2 linked regions of the Homo sapiens genome follow. The protein of the gene in region 1 binds, or shares a complex with, the protein of each later gene. Each region holds a gene or a part of one and is shown on either strand. Other genes may lie near its edges.

Evidence for each region.
Region 2: PPP4R3B (region 1) and PPP4C share a complex: the UniProt entries of both Homo sapiens proteins name them as parts of the PP4 complex.

Annotation. Positions count from the first base shown.
Region 1 is NC_000002.12:55,612,525-55,623,546, reverse strand, and holds the start of PPP4R3B (serine/threonine-protein phosphatase 4 regulatory subunit 3B), read left to right. Parts: upstream 1-5,924; 5' UTR 5,925-6,261; coding exon 6,262-6,403; intron 6,404-8,040; coding exon 8,041-8,096; intron 8,097-11,022. UniProt on the Homo sapiens protein: Regulatory subunit of serine/threonine-protein phosphatase 4 (PP4). May regulate the activity of PPP4C at centrosomal microtubule organizing centers.
Region 2 is NC_000016.10:30,077,170-30,087,238, reverse strand, and holds the end of PPP4C (serine/threonine-protein phosphatase 4 catalytic subunit), read right to left. Parts: intron 6,040-10,069; exon of another isoform or gene 5,981-6,039; coding exon 5,929-5,980; intron 4,756-5,928; coding exon 4,705-4,755; intron 4,494-4,704; coding exon 4,392-4,493; intron 3,846-4,391; coding exon 3,672-3,845; intron 3,585-3,671; coding exon 3,458-3,584; intron 2,574-3,457; coding exon 2,384-2,573; intron 2,307-2,383; coding exon 2,177-2,306; 3' UTR 1,863-2,176; downstream 1-1,862. Other genes in the region: T-box transcription factor TBX6, read left to right, coding at 388-461, 544-727, 801-1,014. UniProt on the Homo sapiens protein: Protein phosphatase that is involved in many processes such as microtubule organization at centrosomes, maturation of spliceosomal snRNPs, apoptosis, DNA repair, tumor necrosis factor (TNF)-alpha signaling, activation of c-Jun N-terminal kinase MAPK8, regulation of histone acetylation, DNA damage checkpoint signaling, NF-kappa-B activation and cell migration.

The sequences.
Region 1 (11,022 bases):
AAATATGTAATATAAGTCTGATATGGTAGCTATTAAATTGCCTGCTAAAGGGAATGTCAAATTGAGTAGTAAACTTCTAAGGGAAGTTTCATTCTTTCAATAGTTATTGAGAACCTGCTATGTTTGACACCCTGTGCTAGACTAGAGATACAATGGTGAGAAAAAATGCAGTTCCCTGGACTAATAGAGGTTTTTCATCTGGATGAGAAGACAGTTATTAATCAGAAATCATACAAATAAATATAAAGCTACAAGTATGACAGGTGCTACAATGGAGGGGTGCATGGTGCTATAAGCGTGTAATAGGATATAATGGATTCTGATTGTATTCCTAGCATCGATTTTACCGATACCTCATAGAGTAACATTCATGGGATTTAGGTGGGATTAACGTAACTTCCAGTTCCAAGGATAGGCCTTGATTTGCCCTGGCCAATCAGTGCTTGACATTCTCTAGACCACAAAACTCTAGGTTTAGGGGCGGACATGTGACCTAAATTAATTTAATCACATTGAAACTGTGAAATATGTGAAAGAAACTCTCTTTTGATATGGACAAAGAACTACATAACCTTGGGAGATCCTGGCCACCATTTTATGATACAAAAGGAGTAAGCCTTAGGATGAATCTGACATCAGAAAGAAAATTGAGAGGTAGAAGGAAATCAAGTTCCTGCTGATACTGTTAAGTCACTCAAATCAACCTGAGGTTCACCTTATCTTCAGACTTCTCATTTATGTGAGCCAATAAATTCTCTTATCATTTAAACTAGTTTAAATTGGATTTTTTGGTAATTGTAACATTCCAAGGGGGATTTGTTCGAATGTGGCTTTTGTCAAAGAAAAAAAAAAAACCCAGGGGATTTGAAATAGGCAGTCCAAGAAGGCTCCTCCAAGGAAGTGATAATAGTGGCAACATTTAAAAGATAAAATGGGAGTTATTAGGAGATGATTGGTGAGGAAGAAAGCTCCAGACAAAGAGAATACCTGTGCAAAGACAGCAAGCAGGGGCATGAGTATGAAAAAAGAGTGTGCGGGTACTAAGATGCAGCTGGAGAGGTAGGCAGAAGCAGGATGAAAAGGGCTTTTTAAGTCATTGAAAGGATTCTGGCCACTGAAATATTTTTCATAACATATAGGGGTGGATAGGATACATCGTATAACGCACATGACAGCCCCTCACAACAAATTATCCAGCCCCAGATGTCAGTGGTGCTTAGGTTGAAAAACTTTGCTCTAGGAAATTAACCTACAAAGATATTGGCACACATAAAACAACTTTTGCACAATCATATGTTTGAAATTACGAACCATTGGAAATGACACAAATATACAATAAATGAGTTAAATAAATTAGGGTACATTTGTACAGTTGATGCAGGATTTTTCTTGGCCACTTTGACAGCTGGAGACCTCCGGCCAGCAACACCCCAACTACTCGGCCCACCAGGATGTGTCTGGCTTGTGCTCAGGCACGAATCCTGCAGCCACCATGGCCTCAGCCCCTGGCAGGAGGGGGTGTGTGAGTGAACGAGTACAGGGCAGGAGTGGGCTCTGTGCGGGGCTTGTGGCTGGACCAGGTGTGTCACATTGAGGGAAATGTGGTGGCACCCAAACAGGGGTGCTCATGACCCTGAAGCCCCAGAGGTGTTACAGTATGCTAAGCACTCTTTTAGTTCTGCCGTCTGCAGGCCAACGGACAGTGGCATGTTAACAGCTCTATCAGTCCCATTGCCCCACTCAGGCCCGTGGCTTCAGGACTGGCTCTGCCCCACTGCTGCTTCCCATCGCGTTGTGTGGGACGGTTGCCCTCCACCAGCAGAGGGCAAAGGGCCACAGTGTGTACAGCCTTCTTTGTATCTGCGTTTGGTGGGTCCCGAATTTTTCTTCAGCGTCCAAGAATGAGGTTACGCTGACAATCAAAGGGTGAGGAGGGTGGAGAAGAGTTTTATTTGAACTATGAAACAGCTCTCAGGAGAGAGAGGATGCAAGGGTGGTCCCTCACTCAAAGTCAGGTGGTCTCTCTCTCAGTGCGGCTGAGTCCACAGCTTTTATGGGCTCAGAATGAAGGCGTGCATGCTGATTGGTTTGTGAGTATGCAAAAAAGGCTAAAACAACAGCACCACTCAAAGGTAGGTACAACAGTGTAAAAAAACAATTAGGAAAGGATATGTGTAAAATAGGTGAAGGGTGGGGATCAATCAGAAGAAAGCACGCCAAATGGGAAGAGAGGTTCTCAATCTGGTCTGTGGATTTATCCTGGTCTTGTGGCTAGCCTTTAAACTGTCCTCAGCTTGAAGGGTTTCACCAGGGACCTGCCCCTGTCTGCCTAGGATTTGTCTGCCTTTTGCGGCTATCACAGTGGGATACTATGTAGCCATTAAGTAGAATGAGTTAGCTCTATATACACACTGACCCAAAAAAGGCTGTCCTGGGCACGGTGGCTCACCCCTGTAATCCCAGTATTTTGGGAGGCTGAGGCAGGTGGATCACATGAGGTCAAGAGTTTGAGACCAGCCTCACCAACATGGTGAAACCCCATCTCTACTAAAAATACAAAAATTAGCTGGGCGTGGTGGCGGACACCTATAATCCCAGCTACTCAGGAGGATGAGGCAGGAGAATCGTTAGAATCCGGGAGACGGAGGTTGCAGTGAGCCGAGATGACACCTCTGCACTCCAGCCTGGACTGTGTATGGAAAAAAAGAAAGAAAAAAAAAGTGGGGGACAGGGGTTCAGATATGGTGGCTCACACTTGTAATCCCAGCACTTTGGGAGGTCAAAGCAGGCAGATCCCTTAAGCTCAGGAGTGTGAGACCAGCCTGGGCACCAACATGTAGAGACCCTGTCTCCACAAAAAATAAAAAGGAAGGAAAAGAATAGTATTCCATTACAGTCATGTGTCCCTTAACAATGGGGATGCTTTCTGAAAAATGCATCATCAGGTGATTTTTTGTTGTGTGAACATCATAGAGTGTACCTAAACAAACCTAGATGGTAGCCTACTACAGAGGTCCCCAACCTTTTTGACACCAGGGACTGGTTTTGTGGAAGACAATTTTTCCATGGAAAGGGGGAGTTGGATTCTCATAAGGAGTGCACAGGTTAGATCCCTTGCATGTGCAGTTTACAATAGGGTTCTCACTCCTACCAGAATGTAATGCCCCTGCTCATCTGACAGGGGGCAGAGCTCAGGCCGAAATGCTGGCTCCCCTGCCACTCACCTTCTGCTGTGCCGCCCAGTTCCTAACAGGCCCTGGACCACTACTGGACCACTACATACATATCTACATATAATTACCTGTATATGCATAGAATATCTCTGGAATAGGACTAGATACATACTTTGTGGGCCCAGTGCAAAATAAAACCGCAGGGCCCTTGTCCAGAAACTTTCCTGAATTTCAAGTTAGTGACAGCAAAACATTAAACCAAGTGCCTATCTGTACAGGTCACCACCATGAAGCCAGCCCTGCTCTGGCAACATACACAGGAAAATGGAATAGAGGTGATTCCAAGAGGAAAATTCTATGAGTGGCAGGAGACAAAGACTAAAAGAAGACTTAGTTTTCACTATATATCTTTGCCTTTTTTTTTTTTTTTTTTTTTGAGACAGTCTGTCACACTGTCCCCCAGGCTGGAGTGCAGTGGTGCAATCTTGGCTCACTGCAACCTCTGCCTCCCAGGTTGAAGCGATTCTCCTACCTCGGCCTCCCAAGTAGCTGGGATTACAGGCCCCCACCACCACGCCCAGCTGATTTTTGTATTTTTAGCAGAGACAGGGTTTCACCACGTTGGCCTGGCTGGTCTGGATCTCCTGACCTCGGGCAATCTGCCCACCTCGCCCTCCCAAAGTGCTGGGATTACAGGCGTGAGCCACCATGCCCGGCCTCTCTTTTTAATTTCATATGTGTAAAGGCATTACTTATTCAAAACAACAAAAAAGGAAGATTGTGGGCTTATTTGGTTAGCAACTCTTTGAAGTGGAACTTTGATGACTGCCTGAAGCAAAGAACATCTGCTGGGGAAGATGTGGTTATGGGGGGCCCTCAGACTTGGATAAGCACTGAGCCCTGTGCTTTGGAGGGGTCTGAAATCCATGGAATCATGGGACTGTAGCCACCTGCAGCCCACTTTCCCTTTTCCAGACCATGCTGTGGGCACTCTAGTATTCCCTATCCCAAACGCCAAGCCTGACTCCAGGGTCTGCACAATCCTCTTCCCAAGTTCAGTCTTCCTGGGGAGTAACCAAAGGGTGAGGCTTGGACAGAAGGCTGGAGAGTCTAACATCAGGCTCAAAAATTGTGTGAAGCATTCTCTGACTCTTCCAAGACAGAAATGTTATTTTCTCTGAGGTCAAAATACATTTTGTCCACTTTCATCACATCAATTAATTGGCTCTATTGTTATGTATTATATTATGATGATTTTCTTCAAGTACATTTTCTGAGGTCTCTAGATTAAAAAAAAAAACTATGAATCCAGATTTTGAAATTATTTCTATCAGCATGTGTTCTGTACACTGACCCACGTTGTAGTGTACTGCTGAAGGGTGTCCACACTTAAGCGATCTGGTCAAAACATAAGCACGTTTTAACAAGACCATTGATTAGTTATGACTACAACTCCCAAGATGCACTGCAGGGTCAGTGTGCGCGTCTCGCCTAGTTTTCACCGATCAGGCTAATGAGCTGCACAGAAGTGGCAGCTGAACAAGCTGAGAGACTGTATTAAAGAACGAATATAGCGGGGATGGGGAGCAGGCGTCTACGGTCCCAGCTACTCGGGAGGCTGAGGTGAGAGGATCGCTTGAGCCCTCAAGGCGGAGGCTACAGTGAGTCGAGATAGCGCCATTGCACTCTAGCCTGGGAAGCAGAGAGAGACTATCAAAAACAACAAAACGAATAAAGGGATTCTACCAAGAGTGAGCTGGACTGAAATAAACGACACGCTACTACGACCCAGCGCGTGACTATATCCACCGCACAATGTGCGATAATAGCCTCAATGCAGAGAGAATTCCTCCTTTCCTTATTCAGTGCAAGAGAGCCCTATAGAGAACGCAGGAAATGCCCGCGAGAAACTGAGAAGTATCAAAACAATCACAGATATGTTAGGAAAGTAGCTCCCCGCCACTTCCCTAAACTTATCATAGCAGACTTACTTTCCAAGGTTACAAACACAAGAAGAGCACTGTATTTTCATGAAGCGGAAAATGTGCTTTACAATCGCCAGCTACTAAGAGCCTTAACGGTGAAGCGCTCTGCAAGAAACAGGAAATCGTCAACACACTTTCTGCATGAATTGCCTGGAGAGTTGTGTCCATAGACAATTCCTGGTTAGATGCTTAATTGTAGCAGACTCCATAACGGGGTTTAGCGGGTTTCCATTCGGCAGAAAGGGCTCCACGTTCTTTTTCACAGAAAGGTTTAAACTTATTTTTCCTCCTCAGGCGGACGAAGTGAGCGTCGTTCCGTGAAGGTATGAAACCCTTTTCCTTCCTTTCTGTCCCTGGTTACTCCGGTTCAAGGCTACGTACTTCCCCGGTTTGCTTTGTTTTTTCCTCAGAGCTAAGTTCCTAGGAACGTCACATACTGGTGCCATCCAACAACATGACGACGTGCGGAACCGAAGTCCCCTTCCACCTAGCGGCCTCTCGCGGCGCAGGCGTGGACGGGGAGATCGCGAGAACCTCCCGCCCAATTGCGACCCCGCGCCAAGAGGCGGGGCCGAAAGAGGAGGAAGTCGGGCCGAAAGAGGAGGAAGTCTCGCCGAAGTACTCCCGCCCCAGTCGGTACCCCTCCTCGCGAGAGCGCCGAGCATTCCGGCCTGGGAAGCGCGTGCAGAAGCGGAGGTGCTGCTCATGGGACTTGTCGGCCGCCGTAGCCCCTGCTAGGACAGCCCGTGCGAGCCTGCTGGAGGAGGAAGAGAAAGGCAGAGAGAGTCGGGTTACAAGATGGCGGATCTGTAGTAGTTACCGCGGCGGCGGGAGAGCAAGCGAGCCCTGGGGGGCAAAGAGACGGGAGAGTGGGTGTATGCGCGGGTGAAGTGAGAGGTAACGGGGCCTCCGGGCGGAGAGGCCTCAGTGGCTCTTGTCACCCCTTCTCGCGGCTGAACCTTTGGAGCCATGGTGAATTCGGGCCTCTCCGAAGCCGCCGCCGCCGCCACCGCCACTACTGCCTTTACCGTCTCCTAAGAGTGAGGAGCGCGGACGAGGTAAGCGAGGAGGCGGCGGCTAGAGCGGTGGAGACAGCAGCCACCATGTCGGATACGCGGCGGCGAGTGAAGGTCTATACCCTGAACGAAGACCGGCAATGGGACGACCGAGGCACCGGGCACGTCTCCTCCACTTACGTGGAGGAGCTCAAGGGGATGTCGCTGCTGGTTCGGGCAGAGTCCGACGGTAAGGTTATCGGAACTGTAGAATAGGGGATAGTGCCTCTGGTTGGGGCACAGCTTGGGTTTAGGGCCCTGGGCCCGTTACCGTTGCTACTCCTTCGGGACAGCGCGTTGGTTCTGAACTGGCTCTTGTGTACGGCAAAAACAAAGTACTGTACTTTTGACTGGACTTATCCTCGGAGACCGAGACTCTCTGTCCTTCTCCCATCTCTCTTAAGGATTGGACTCCTTCCTTTCCAGTCCCTCCTCTTTTGAAGAGGGGAGAGTGTGAGAGAGAAGGGAGGAAGTAGTGAGAGACTAGGTACTGATGTCGCCCTAGGAGCTGACACCTTCCTCCCCCTTTATTTACTTATCCATTATACGTCTAGTACAAACGGTTTAGGGAAACTTTTCTTTCCGAGTGTTTTTAAAAAAAAAAAATTGTACCAACGGGCCCCAGGTGCCACAGTCGACAGGTGCTGGGGAAAACCGAAAGGCACGTTTTCCTGGCTGTATTGCTGACTGTTGCCACGATACATGGACACACAAGCACATACATCTGTAGTCTGCATTTCTTCGGGCTGCCTTTGTAGAAGGCGCTATGAGAAAGTGAATGCCTTACAATCTAAGCAAGTTGGGACACCAAAGCAGGTTGTAAACTGCTGTGTTCTTTGGTTTATTGTAGTCATGTGAAGTATTTTAAATTACAAAATGTAGAGCCGTAATTAAAATGCCTTTTATAGTATAATCTGGACTTGATTTGAACAACTGATATAGGCAGTTAGAAAAATAATCTTAGGTTTAGTCTTGACATATTTTGTATTCTTGCTTGTTCCCTTTTATTTTAAATAGTCATCACTTCTACAGAAGGTGTTCTTTTGTTCTTAATGAGGAAAGGATAAATGCAGCACTGTAATTTCTATACTAAGTATTTAATCCCTGTCATGATGTTTTTGTTTTGTAATTTGCATTATTTGTTAAACTGGGAATGCAATAAAACAACTTTTGTTAAAACGAATGGCTTGAAGTGGTCATTTAGACCTTAAAATTTTTATTTCAATAAAATTTTAATAGTCATCTAGTCTCCTCATTCCTTGGTTTGATTGTTGGTTTTAGATTAATTTTTCCTTTAAGGGTGTATGGGAATAGGGTGAAATATTTTAGATTAAATGTGAAGCCTAGATTTGGAGAGAAAATGTGAATTCGAATACATTTTATTAAGATGTCCAACTCGGTAAAAAGACTTGAAAAGTTTGCGGGGGCGGGGGGCGGGGTTTAAATGTGTATTTTTTTTTTTTTTTTTTTTTTTTTGGAGACAGAGTCTTGCTCTGTTGCCAGGCTGGAGTTCAATGGCGCGATCTGGGCTACTGCAACCTCTGCCTCCTCTCCCTCTCTCTCAAGCGATTCTCCTGCCCCACCCTCCCGTGTACCTGGGACTACAGGCATGCGCCACCACGCCCAGCTAATTTTTGTATTTTTAGTAGAGACGGTTTCACCATGTTGGCTGGAATGGTCTGGATCTCTTGACCTCGTGATCTGCCCGCCTCCCAAAGTGCTAGGATTACAGACGTGAGCCACTGCGCCCGGCTTTAATGTGTATTCTAATTTTTATTCAGGGTTTTATCATTTGAGACTTATGATGTATTATTTTTTATCTTTCAGGATCACTACTCTTGGAATCAAAGATAAATCCAAATACTGCATATCAGAAACAACAGGCAAGTAGTTGTTTATCTTTAATTTGAAAGACTTCATCTGTGATCAAGGAAGTATTAATCTGACAAAGGTGGGAAAGCTTTCCTGACAAGAAAAAAACATGTTTGGTAAACAAAGATCATGTGTATTTCTCTTGCAGGTTAAAAGTTTCAGACTGAAAAAAAGTTTTTGTACTGGTGATAATTATCATTTTTGGATTGAGCCACTGTCGGTTTATTCTAAGATGTATTTATTAGTATTATTTAACTGTAGTTAGCCAAGTCTCTTCTATACCTTGTACATGAAACCTTTTATTCTGAGTCACGTTTAAAGGAAATGACATAGAACAAAATTCAAAGGGATACTCTTAAAGCAAGGAAAGCCTGTTTGTGGTGTGAAATTAAATCCTTTGACTCAAGTAAAGGTAGAGGTTTTGAAGTAGAAGCATTAAATCCTGCTCTTTAATTGTTGTGTATTTTTAATATAGTAATCAATGGATACTTTATAAAAATGTACATTACCAAGTATGTAACATCTTCTGTTAATATTGTCTTATTTGGGAAAGAAAATGTGTATTGTATTTTAGCACGCCTGATTAATCTGAAAATGGTAGCAGTGATTCAATCTTTTTTATTCTGTGAATGTTTTTGTTTTTATTATGAAATATATTAAAATTGAAAAGTACAGAGAATAATCGGTGTCTACTGTAACACCACCAGATTTAACAATGTTAATGTTACGCCATATTTGTTTCAAATATTTTTGTAATATTGAACATTATGGATAGAGTTAAAGCTTGTTTGTATCCATCCCGTTGTTTACATTCTCCATCCCCTACATAGGTAACCACTATTCTGAAGTTGATGTGTATTCTTTGTGTACATGCTTTTATACCTTTTCTGCATATGTATGTATCCATAAATAATATGTAGTCTGTTGTGTGTTTTTAAACTTTACACAGTGGATGTCATACTCTTACATGTATTCTGCAGCTTGCATTTTTCACACATTCATTTTGAATATTCGTTCATGTTAACAATGTAGATCTAGTTTTCTTTTTAAACTCTGTATAGTATTCTTATGTATGACATACACTTGTTGTTATACATTTGAATTATTTCCAGGTATTCTTTTTTGTGTGTGGTATGTAAAGTCACGATGGCAGAGATTTTTGAAGGAAGATAAATTATTTTAGGATTACATTTACAGCGTCAGTGCCCACTTCAAGGTTTATGAAAATTTGGATGCCCAGAAACAAGTACTTCGTAGTTGGAGGAATAAAATTCTGTCTGTTGTGCAGCTTATTATTACAAAGTCTTACTGTTAGAACAATTATGTATATAACACATTCTTAATCAGTTATTTGAAATACTTTAAAATTTTCAATATTCAATTCATAGCTTTTTTCTCTGTTTAGAAAATATTGTGTGTCTTTTTTGATGGAGAAGCAAATTAAACATTTGTCCTGAATTGAAAACCTGAAGATGTTTCCTATACCTTAGACATTGTAAGGTAGACATTTAAGTAAATTTAATTTCTCAGTCAGCCAGGCAGCTCTTAATCTCTGTCTTTATACCGAGTTTTTACCAGATGATCACTTTTAGTTTGTTTTTGTTTGCTTGCTTCTTTGTGGGGAAAGAAATACTAATTTTTTTTTTTTTTTTACCATATTTCCCTTATCTGCATGAATATAATTATCAGGAACTTTGTTCTTAAATGTAACTAAGTCATAAACAGTTCCCTACAAATTTAGGTTTAATAATGGATTCTTCTCAGATTGTATATAAGATCTTTTAGCTGTTGTTACTTTGGAAACATCACATTATGGAGTAGGTTTGTATTTAAAATAGTCACCCAACATAAGTTAAAAATACATAGTGATTCTGTGAATACTTTAGAATCATTAGGATATGTAGGTAATTTCATGTATAATGTTGCTCTACTAGAAAATTAGTTCTAGATAATTAGCATTTTTGTATACACTTAGTATAAAGTATTGGAAAAAATGCATTATTTAAAAAAATTACACCATTTGGAAATGTTTTCTGTAATCACATTTAAATAATATACTATTTGGGGTTTTGTAATAGTTTATTTTTTCGTTGGGCTTTTTTTTTTTGGCAACATAACATTCAGGTGTATAAGAGAACTCTGGTAATGAGAAGAATATGGAAACACTGAAGAAGAGTGAAAAACTTGTGTGAATGATGTTACCTGTTTATTTTTGTTTAAATTGAGTACACTTTTCTAATTGAAATCATAGGGCCATTTAGGGGTTATGTTAAACTTAGTTTCTTTGTAATAGACATGGTTTTTCATATTTTCACCCAAATCTTCAATTTGCACTTTTGAAAATAATTTTTTTGAGAGGGTCTTCTTCTGTCCCTTAGGCTGGAGTACAGTGGTTTGATCACAGCTCACTGCAGCCTCAACCTCCTGGGCTCAAGCGATCCTCCAATTTCAGCCTTCTGAGTAGATGGGATTATGGATGTGAGCCACCATGCTTGACTAATTTTTTTTTTTTTTTTGAGATGGAGTCTCGCTCTGTCGTCCATGCTGCAGTGTGGTGGTGCGATTTCTGCTCACTGCAAGCTTCGCCTCCCGGGTTCACACCATTCTCCTGCCTCAGCCTCCCAAGTAGTTGGGACTACAGGCGCCCGCCACCACGCCCAGTTAATTTTTTTGTATTTTTTAGTAGAGATGGGGTTTCACCGTGTTAGCCAGAATGGTCTCGATCTCCTGACCTCGTGATCCGCCCGCCTCGGCCCCCCAAAGTGCTGGGATTACAGGTGTGAGCCACCAAGCCCGGCCAACCTTACTAATTTTTTAAAAAATTTGTAAAGATGGGGTCTCGTTATGTTGTCCAGGCTAAATTTGCACCTTTAAAAAATTTATTACAAAACTTTGTTGTTGTTGTGTTTGTAGAGACGGTCTCACTGTGTGGCCCAG
Region 2 (10,069 bases), on another chromosome or scaffold:
TTTTAAAAATGAAAAGAAAAAGGACAGGTTCAGCCCGTGAAGAGGGGACAGAAGAGGATTCCAGAGAGAGGCTGAGAGTGGAGATGGGGCAGAAAGATGAGCTAGGTGAGACTGTGCCCTGGCCTTGCCACTGGGAAGGAGTTTCCACTGATACTAAACACAATAGGAAAGCATGGACAAATTTGAGCAGGGACAAAATTCCAGCTCTGCCACTTTCTAGTTATTTAATTTTCTGGCCTTCAGTTTCTTCATCTATAAAATGGGTATAATGATGGCCCCTACCTGACAGGGTCCCTGGGAGGGTGAAATGCCTGGCACCGGGTAAGTACTGTTACCATCACCATGGCCATCACCATCATCATCATCATCACCACCACTGTTCCCCAGGGAGCGAGACGCCCGTGTGAAGAGGAAACTGCGGGGCCCAGAGCCAGCAGCCACAGAGGCCTATGGGAGCGGAGGTGAGTGTAGTCCCGATGGCGATGGGGCCAGGCCTGAGACAGGGATCCTCCCTAGCCCAACCTCTCCCTTCCCTCTCCCCAGACACACCAGGTGGTCCCTGCGACTCCACCCTGGGTGGAGACATTCGTGAATCAGATCCAGAACAGGCCCCAGCCCCCGGGGAAGCCACCGCTGCCCCGGCACCTCTGTGTGGTGGCCCCAGTGCTGAGGCCTACCTCCTGCACCCTGCGGCTTTCCATGGGGCCCCCAGTCACCTTCCCACCAGGTGAGTGGGACAGGGGACCAGGCGGGGCTGCGGGTCCCTCTGCCCTGCTCTGACATCCCTCTCTCCATGTCAGGAGCCCCAGCTTCCCGGAGGCTCCAGACTCCGGGCGCTCAGCCCCCTACTCGGCTGCATTTCTGGAGCTGCCGCACGGGTCAGGGGGCTCCGGGTACCCAGCGGCTCCACCGGCGGTACCCTTTGCCCCGCACTTTCTCCAAGGGGGCCCCTTCCCTCTACCATACACCGCGCCTGGGGGCTATCTGGATGTGGGCTCCAAACCCATGTACTGAACCACTGCTGGGCCCCTCTGCCTCCATCACAAACCTCCCGCTCCCTTCCCCCAGCCCTGGAGCCCCCTCACCTCCACCGGCCCCATCCCCCACACCAAATGGCCGCCTTGGGCCTGCCCACCCACCCCCTCAACTTCACACCTTGATTTCACTCCCACCCCCCTCTGGCTTCAAAGCCTAACCAAGGCTGCTGGGAGTCCAGCTGGGGCCGGCTTCCCCTTCCCGGCTCTCACCTCCGTGTGAATGGAAGGGGCTCTGCCTGGCCAAATGGGGCCACAGACCAGCATCCCCACTTACCAGGCCTCCCCATGGGCTCTGGAGGGGCTCAATCCCCACCCCCCCACACACACTGGTGCAGGCCACACCAGTCTGTTGTTCTGGGACCAGAGTATTTTTGTTAATAAAACTCAAAAGCCATCCATGCTCAGGAAACATTGGGCTCCTGTGTTTGGCCCTGGGCGGGGCTGGGTGAGCAAAGGCTTTGCTAGGAGACCCAGGCCCAGATCTAGACCTGTGTTTCCAGCTGCCTGACCTAGCACAAAATCCACTGGCCCTCTAGGCCCATCTCCTCTTCAGGAAAATGGAGAAATCAGAATCCTGTGATTCTGTGTGTGCCTGTGTGTGTATGCTGTTAATAAGATAAGGCTGCCCATGAGAACAGAGCCCTCTCCCTAGGGCTGGGGAAGCCAGCAGGCAGCGGCCCCTGGAGGCCCTGGGCAAGCTGACTGGCCTGAGCCTGGCCCTCTTGGCAGGTCGGGGCCCTGAGGCAGTCAAGGCCCTGACGTCCACCCCAGGTCCCAGGCCAGCAACCCTGTGCATTCCCAACCAAGTCTGGCACAAACCCAAAAACCATTTTTCTTCTTTTATTAGAATTTTTTCATTTTTTTTCTCAAAATTTTTATCTAAAAACAAACAGAAAAAAGAAGGAAAAAAAGAAAAAAAAATTATTGGAAACTTCATGGTTCAAGTGGGGAGAGAGGAGGAGGAACATGGAGCTAGGTCTCCAGGCCTCTCCAGAGAAGTCCTCACCCTCGAAGCACCCTCTTGGGGGACAGCAGAGCCAGGACAGCCCCCCCCACGCCCAGCCTCCGTCTGAGGAAGATGGCAGAGTCACAGTGGTGCGAGGGCCAGAAGGGTTGGAGGGGGCAGGGGCCGGGCGGGGTCACAGGAAGTAGTCGGCCACGGGCTTCTTGGAGGGGATGCCCCGTGTCTCTTGGGGAGCAGCCTCAAAGATGATGAAATCTTTCTGGAGATGCTCGTCCAGCTCCAAGATGGCTGCCACATTCCCACAGCTGGAAGGCGGGGCAGCAGGGTCAGGAGCAGCTCGGCTCAGATGCCCGCCCATCCCAGCCCGGCCCAGCCGGCTCACCGGTAGCAGTAGTTGGGTGCCGACCACACAGTGAGCACCGTCTCATTGAAGTGCCACTTGTAACCTTCCATCACCAGTTGGTGGGCACGGCAGATCATGTCAATGTCATTGGCTGCGTTGAACTGGGCCACCACGTCACTGCCAAATAGGTAGCCGGCTCCTCGGGGGCTCACGCCCCAGCCTGTGGTGTCTGATGCGGAAAGGGAGGGATGGAGAGGGATGTCCTCAGGCTTCTCTGGCTGCCAGCGCTGCCCCTTGAGGGTGAGCAGCCTGGCCCCTCCCCAAGTCCACCAGAGGCCCGTGGGACCAGAGCATGGGGCCTGAATATGGTCTGTGGGATGGCGGGGACCAGGACAGCAAATGTAGGGGCAGATAAGCTCCAGAGGAGAAAGAACGCCCAATGCCTGGGGCCCCCTCATAATCACAGTGATCATACAATCCCCGTCCAAACAGCACATAAGAGTGAAAGGGGCACTCCCAGAGACAGAAGGGCACCCTGTGTTGTCACAGGGAGGTCCGGAGTGACTGTGGAGCAGCGGCTGCATGTGTGTGTCTGCATGTGTGTGTCTGTATGTGTGTGGCTGTGATGGAGCAGAGGCCTCGTGTGCGTGTGTGTGGCTGTGATGGAGCAGAGGCTATGTGTATGTGTGTGTGTGTCTGCGCTGGAGCAGAGGCTGCCTGTGCGTGTGTGCCTGTGACAACAGGAACTCTGGCTGGTCCTCAGAAGACCTGACTTTAAATCTCAGCTCTGCTCTACACTAGTGGAAAACCCACAAAATGAGGGGTCTCAGGGGGCTACCATTCTGGGGTTCTGACCTCTGAAGAAGCTGCTGTCATGTTCTAAGGCCCCTTCACTTCAGGGAGCCATGACTTGGTTGTCCTCCACAGCCCTCTGGGCCATGCCCCAAGCCACTGTGTGCTCAAAGCACCTGCCATGCAGGCCTCCCTGCTCCTCCTCCAGGGTTCCAGCCATTTGGCAGGTGGAGGACGAGTGACAGTGAAGACCAGCCCTGCTCCCTCTCTTTCCCAACCCCTCCTGGCTGTCCCTGCCTGCCCCTGCCCACATGCCCTCACCTTCTGGGTCAGACCAGAGGAGGTCACACATGGGCCCATCATGAGGCACCTCTTGCTTTCGGTCGATTGTCCGAATCTGATCCAGGGTCTGGATGGAGGGGGAGAGGCCCCCGTGCACGCAGAAGATCTACAGGGGAGAGCAGGGAAAGAGGACGGGGCTGAGGCCTGAAGCCCCCCTCCTCTCCCTGTCCCATGGAGCCCTGGGCTGGCTTACCTTGCCATCGATGATGGCTGACAGGCTGAGGTAGTCAAAGATCTCAGTGCAGTAGCGCCACACAGTCACCGAGCCGTACTTGCGCAGGCACTCATCGTAGAAGCCATAGACCTGCGTGATCTGGCGACTCTCATGGTTGCCCCGGATCAGTGTGATGCGATCAGGATAGCGAACCTGGGGGTGGCCACCAAGCCAGGGCTGGCGCCTAGACGGTCTCTCCACACATCCCTCTCTGACCTCCTCGTGCCCGCCAGCCTGCCATCCTCACAACCACTGCCCAGCACACTCCTGGCACCTCTTGCCTGAATCGTGTGGCATCAGCCACCTCCCAGGCCCACACGACCCCTCCAGAGAATGTAAAGCTGACCCATTCCCTCAACTATGAACCTAATGGCTCTTCTTTCACCTACCAGACACAGACCGGGTCCCTAGCAAGGCACCCAGGCCCTTTGTCATCTGGCCCCACACTGCCTCTCCCACCAGTGGCATCAATGACCTGCCACATTCGCAACAGTGAGCCTCTGCCCCTCCCAGAATGCTGCCCCGCTGGCCTCAACCCCCATCAAGTCTCTGACCACCCCCAAAAGCAGAATCGGTCCATCACCAGTGACACAGCTCCAAGGTGGGGCTGGTCACGATAGGAGATGAGGGCGGAACGGACTAAGACAGGCCCGGCCCGAGGTCGCCCAGGTTGGGGGTGCAGAAGCCGGGGACTGCCACCTTAAGTGCCAGCAGCAGGAGGAACGTTTCGACGCTATAGAAGCCACGGTCCACAAAGTCCCCCATGAAGAGGTAGTTGGTCTCAGGGACGTCGCCACCTACCTGTGGGGAAGTAGAAAGTTTTGCCCTGTCGTAAACAGTCCCCTACCCCCTACCTGTTTCTGTCCAGCGGAGGCCCTTCTTCCACAACCACCCATCTAACTTGGGGCCCCTTGCCCCCACTCCACGCCCCAAATTAAGGCTCCCACCCTCAATTACAGGGGTCTTCCAGTCATCCCCCCGTTACATTTCACAGTGTTGGCCACACTCTTACTCTGAACAGCTCTTTGAGGTCATAGAATTGTCCATGGATGTCGCCGCACACCTGGGGAACAGGAAGAGTGGGGTTGGAACTCAAGCAGTGGGAGTTGCCAGGGACTACCCTCCAAACACCCGCTGCTTTAGTGAGCTTTATCACTCTTGGCTGCACTTCTACTTCCTAGGACCAAAATTCTCCTCTCCCACCCCAAGTCAGTCTGGTCTGGAACCATACCCACTGTCCTATGCTGAGTACCAACTATTCTGTAGGCAAGAGCTAGAACTAAGTCCTTCCAGGTAGATGTCCCGGCCCCTTCCTCTCTCTACTCCCCACAAAGTACCCAGAATCAAGTTACTAACACAGAGCCCTGGAGATATGTGAGCAGAATCACTCGCCAAATAGGAGTCCTTCTGCCCTGGCCAAGAATCTCCACTAACAAATCCAAAGTCCCTTCCCATAACCCCTTTCTTTTCTTTCCTTTCTTTTTTTTTTTTTTAGACGGAGTCTCACTCTGTCGCCTAGCCTGGAGTGCGGTGGCGCGATCTCGGCTCACTGCAAGCTCCGCCTCCTGGGTTCACGTCATTCTCCTGCCTCAGCCTCCCGAGTAGCTGGGACTACAGGTGTCCACCACCACACCTGGCTAATTTTTTTGTATTTTTAGTAGAGATGGGGTTTCACCATGTTAGCCAGGATGGTCTCGATCTCCTGACCTCATGATCCACCTGCCTCGGCCTCCCAAAGTGCTGGGATTACAGGCGTGAGCCGCCGCGCCCGGCCTGTTTTTTTTGTTTTTTTTTGTTTTTTTTTGAGACGGAGTCTCCCTCTGTCACCCAGGCTGGAGTGCAGTGGCCTGATCTCAGCTCACTGCAATCTCCAACTCTGGGGTTCAAGCGATTCTCCTGCCTCAGCCTCCCAAGTAGCTGGGATTACAGGCACGTGCCACCACGCGTGGCTAATTTTTGTATTTTTAGTAGAAACGGTTTCACCATGTTGGCCAGGCTGGTCTCGAACTCCTAACCTCAAGTGATGTGCCCACCTTGCCCTCCCAAAATGCTGGGATCACAGGTGTGAGCCAACGTGCACAGCAACCCCCACTTCTTTTAGCAGTGCTCCGTTGAAGGTGAGGGAAAGGACAGATAAAAGAGCTTAGGGTTGGGCTTATAGAGCCCCCAAGATGAAGAGGAAACTTCATGTGCCTGAAAGACCAGGCCTGGCTCTGCAGGGACAGCAGGTACTCACTGTGACTGGCGAGTCCACCCTCTGCACGTTGCTCTCCTCTACCAAGATCTCTCTGGAGACAGGAGAAGACCAGGGTCACCACAGCCAGGCCAGCCCAGCCCAATTCCTGACCTTTTTTGGGGGGAGGGGAGGATATGAGGCAGTCCTGGAAGCTCCAGGGGGCAGGAGTGAAGCGTACAGTCTCCCCAAAACAGGCTGACCACGGCCCTTCAGCATGCAACACCCTTCCGTGGCCCCCTGCTGCCAAAAGGACAAAGTCCAACCTCTTATCCCAGCGTTCCAGGCCTTCTGAGCAGGCTGGGACTTTTCCAGCCCTGACTCCCCCTGCCGCTCCCTCTTCCGCATCCAGGACTCACTCCTGGGAGGCGGGTCTCCCCATCCTCTCCACAGCAGAGCTTAAGTCACCCTTGGCCAATCACAGAGCCCTTCTCCCAGGCTATCCAGACACAAGGGTAGGTGCCCAGGGCAGGCCCACAGTGGATGCGCCTTCAAAGTGATGCGCTCTTGGCCAGGTGCGGTGGCTCATGCCTGTAATCCCAGCACTTTGGGATGCCAGGGTGGGCAGATCACGAGGTCAGGAGTTTGAGACCAGCCTGACTAACATGGTGAAACCCTGTCTCTACTAAATATACAAAAATTAGCCAGGCGTGGTGGCGCGTGCCTGTAATCCCAGCTACTTGGGAGGCTGAGGCAGGAGAATCGCTTGAACCTGGGAGGTGGGGGCTGCAGTGAGCTAAGATCGCGCCACTGCACTCCAGCCTGGGCGACAGAGCAAGACTTCATCTCAAAAAAAAAAAAAAAAAAGTGAGGTGCTCTTGCCATGTGTTCAGTATTTCTTTATGACTATGAGGACTTAAATATTTTTTATTTCTCCTTGCAGTGCAGTCTACTTCTACTTGAGTGAGCAGGAGATGAAATCACTTTGCCAGGTAAGACACCCAATTTTTTTTTTTTTTTTTTTTTTTTGAGACAGAGTCTGGCTCCATTGCCCAGTCTGGAGTGCAGTGGCGCCATCTTTGCTCACTGCAAACCTCTGCTTCCTGGGTCAAGTGATTCTCCTGCCTCAACCTCCCGAGTAGCTGGGATTAGAAGCATGTACCACCACGCCCAGCTAATTTTTGTATTTTTAGTAGAGTCGAGATTTCACTATGTTGCCCAGGCTGGTCTCGAACTCCTGACCTCAAGTGATCTACCCACCTTTGCCTCCCAAAGTGCTGGGATTACAGATGTGAGCCACTGCACCCAGCCTATAGATACCCAATTTAAGCAACACTGTATTTCCAAATTTTGCCTGGTAATAGCAGCAGTGAACATTCGAGCTCATACTGTGTGCCACAAATGTTATTAAGAGCTTGGCAGGCAGGTACTATGATGATTCCCGGTACACAGATGAAGAAATTGAAGCAGGGAAGGAGGCTGGCTTGGTGCCAGTGACACAGGTGGGATATGAACCAGGGAAGCCTGGCTCTGGGGTCTGACTCTTTATCAAGATATTCTGATGTGGGAGGCCCAACTCGCCTGGCCCCCCTCTTTCTGCCAATCTCTTCCCTTAGAATGAGTTTCCTGAGCTCAGTGGACAGGAGGATTCACTTATGCCCCTTGCTCTGTATGGCAGAGGCAGCACGAAGGAGGTCTGCCCTGGCTTTCTGGGAACAGAAGGCAGCACTGGCGGTGGTCCAAGAGGCCACATCAGTACCCGGACTCTCCCACCTGCACTGCTTCTTGTGCTGAACATCCTTCCCCATCAACTGCTCATAGTGACCTTTCCAACAGACTGGGGAGGTTCTCTTCAGCCTCACGTAACAGTAAAGAAACCGAAGCTAGGCCGGGCGCGGTGGCTCATGCCTGTAATCCCAGCACTTTGGGAAGCCAAGGCAGGCAGATCATGAGGTCAAGAGATTGAGACCATCCTGGCCAACATGGTGAAACCCCGTCTCTAGTAAATATACAAAAATTAGCTGGGCATGGTGGCGCGTGCCTGTAATCCCAGCTACTTGGGAGGCTGAGGTAGGAGAATCACTTGAACCTAGGAGGTGGAGGTTGCAGTGAGCCAAGATCAGGCCACTGGCACTCCAGCCTGGGCAACAACAGCAAAACTCTGTCTCAAAAAAAAAAAAAAAGAAAAAAAGAAACCAAAGCTTACAGAAAAGCGGGAGGGTCAAGGTCACCAAGCTGGAGAGTGGCTAAATTGGAACCCAGAAGCCCAATTTCCTGAGAATTTATGCCAGCCCCTTCCACAGACCCTGAGTGAAAACCTGAAGCCCAGGGAGGTCACATGCAGGGCCCGTGCTCTCTGCAAAGCCCCCCTCAGTGCCAGCGCAACCCCAGTGTGGCCTGGGAATCAGGCCCAGATTCCAGCCCCAGTTCTGCCACTTGCAGCACTTCCCCAGCCCTATCAGGACCTGCCTGCAGTAACGGCTACCAGCGCAGCAGGCCCTGTGCCCGGATACCCGGACTCTCAACTGCATGTCATTATCACTTCAAAAAATCAGAAAGTGACTTGACGAGGGTCATATTGCTTCTAGGTGACAAGGCAAAGATTCATACTGAAGACCACCTGATTCAAAAGCTCAGCTCTCCTACTGTGCTAATATTTCTAGTAGCAGCAATTTCAGCTCAGACACTGCGGACCTCTGTGCTTCCACTGGTTTCATCTGCATGTCTGTGCCCTCTAGGCAAGCTGGTGCTCTTGACACCACCAGCCTCAGCCTGGGTCTCTGATGGGTCCCCAGGAGGCCATAACCAGGTATCAGAGATGGCCCTGCTTCAGACTGAGCCTGGGACAACAGCGGCCAACTCAGGCCTTGGCCTAGTACCTCCTAGTTCCACTCAGTTTCAACTGGGCAGGACCCTCCACCCCTCAGCCTTCCATGGCTTCCTGCTGCCTCACACCCCACATCAAAATCTAAATGCCTCTGCCTGGCTCTCAGTGACCACGGAGCACAGTCAAAGACCTGGATGCAAAACTAACTTCCCCTCCGACTAGCTGCGTGATGTTGGGCAAGACATTATCTACTCAAAGGCTCAGTTTCCTCTGCTATGAAATGGGGCTAAGTACTCAGCCCACCCTGCGTATTCCTTAGGCTGTTGCAAGGAGCCATGGAGACTGAATATACGACTTCCTGCTATTCTGCAAACTCCAGCATGCTATCTAAGCTTTGTCTACCATCACCACCACACTGATCCAGGGCCCGTGAGGGAGACAATACTTCGAGGTTAAAGAATAGTGCCAGGCAACAACAGGTTTAAGTTCCTAAAAATGCCAATCAGGACTGAGGGAAAGGGGACAACTAAAAACACCATGGGGCTGGTCTGGTCAGCTGGCAAAAGAGAAAAGCCACAGACAGGTGGCGAAAAAGAGGCCGACCCTGCTCATCATCCCCTCACAGGCCCTGTCTGGCTGCAGGTAGTCTATGTGAGGCAGGGCCAGGCAAAGAGCCTGAGGGCCACAGATTCAGGACCCAGCTCTGCCACGTCCTCAGTGGGTGACCTCAGTTAAGTCACCAGACCTCTACGAGTCATGGCTTCCTATTCGATAAAATGCAGCAAATGATTCCAACCTCATAGGATTGCTGGGGGGAAGAGATGGATAGAAGTTTTTTGCCAGTACCGGGCCAGGCCAAATAGTGGCCCTGTAAAGGCCAATGTTTACTGTTCAATAAACGTAGGGTAATTCTGTGGGCTCTTCTGCCACAATTCTCCAGCCTGGTAGAAGCCACAATCACACAGTTCCCCAGAGGAGGCAGGTAATTAAACCCCTGACTGTTCCCCACGCATCTCAGGGCCTCCACTGTTACATTCGTCCTGCTTGGAATGCCCTTCCCTCACTGGCCCTGCCTCCATCAGCTAGCCAAATTATCTTCATCCTTCAAGGCCTACCTCCACTCAAAAGCCCTCCCTGATGGCTTTAGCCCATCTCATTATTGCCCTCTTCCAAAAGAAATAGAATACCTGGTGATTATCAAGCACGTATGCTGTACCAAAACACTGTGCTAACCTCATCTCCAGCACCAACTCACTGAATCTTCACAATCATCTTATTAAGTACTATTAATTCTGCTTTACAAATAAAGACACTTAAGATTACTAACACAGCTAGAAAGCGGCAGAGTTCAGATTCAAACCTAGAGCCATCTCACAC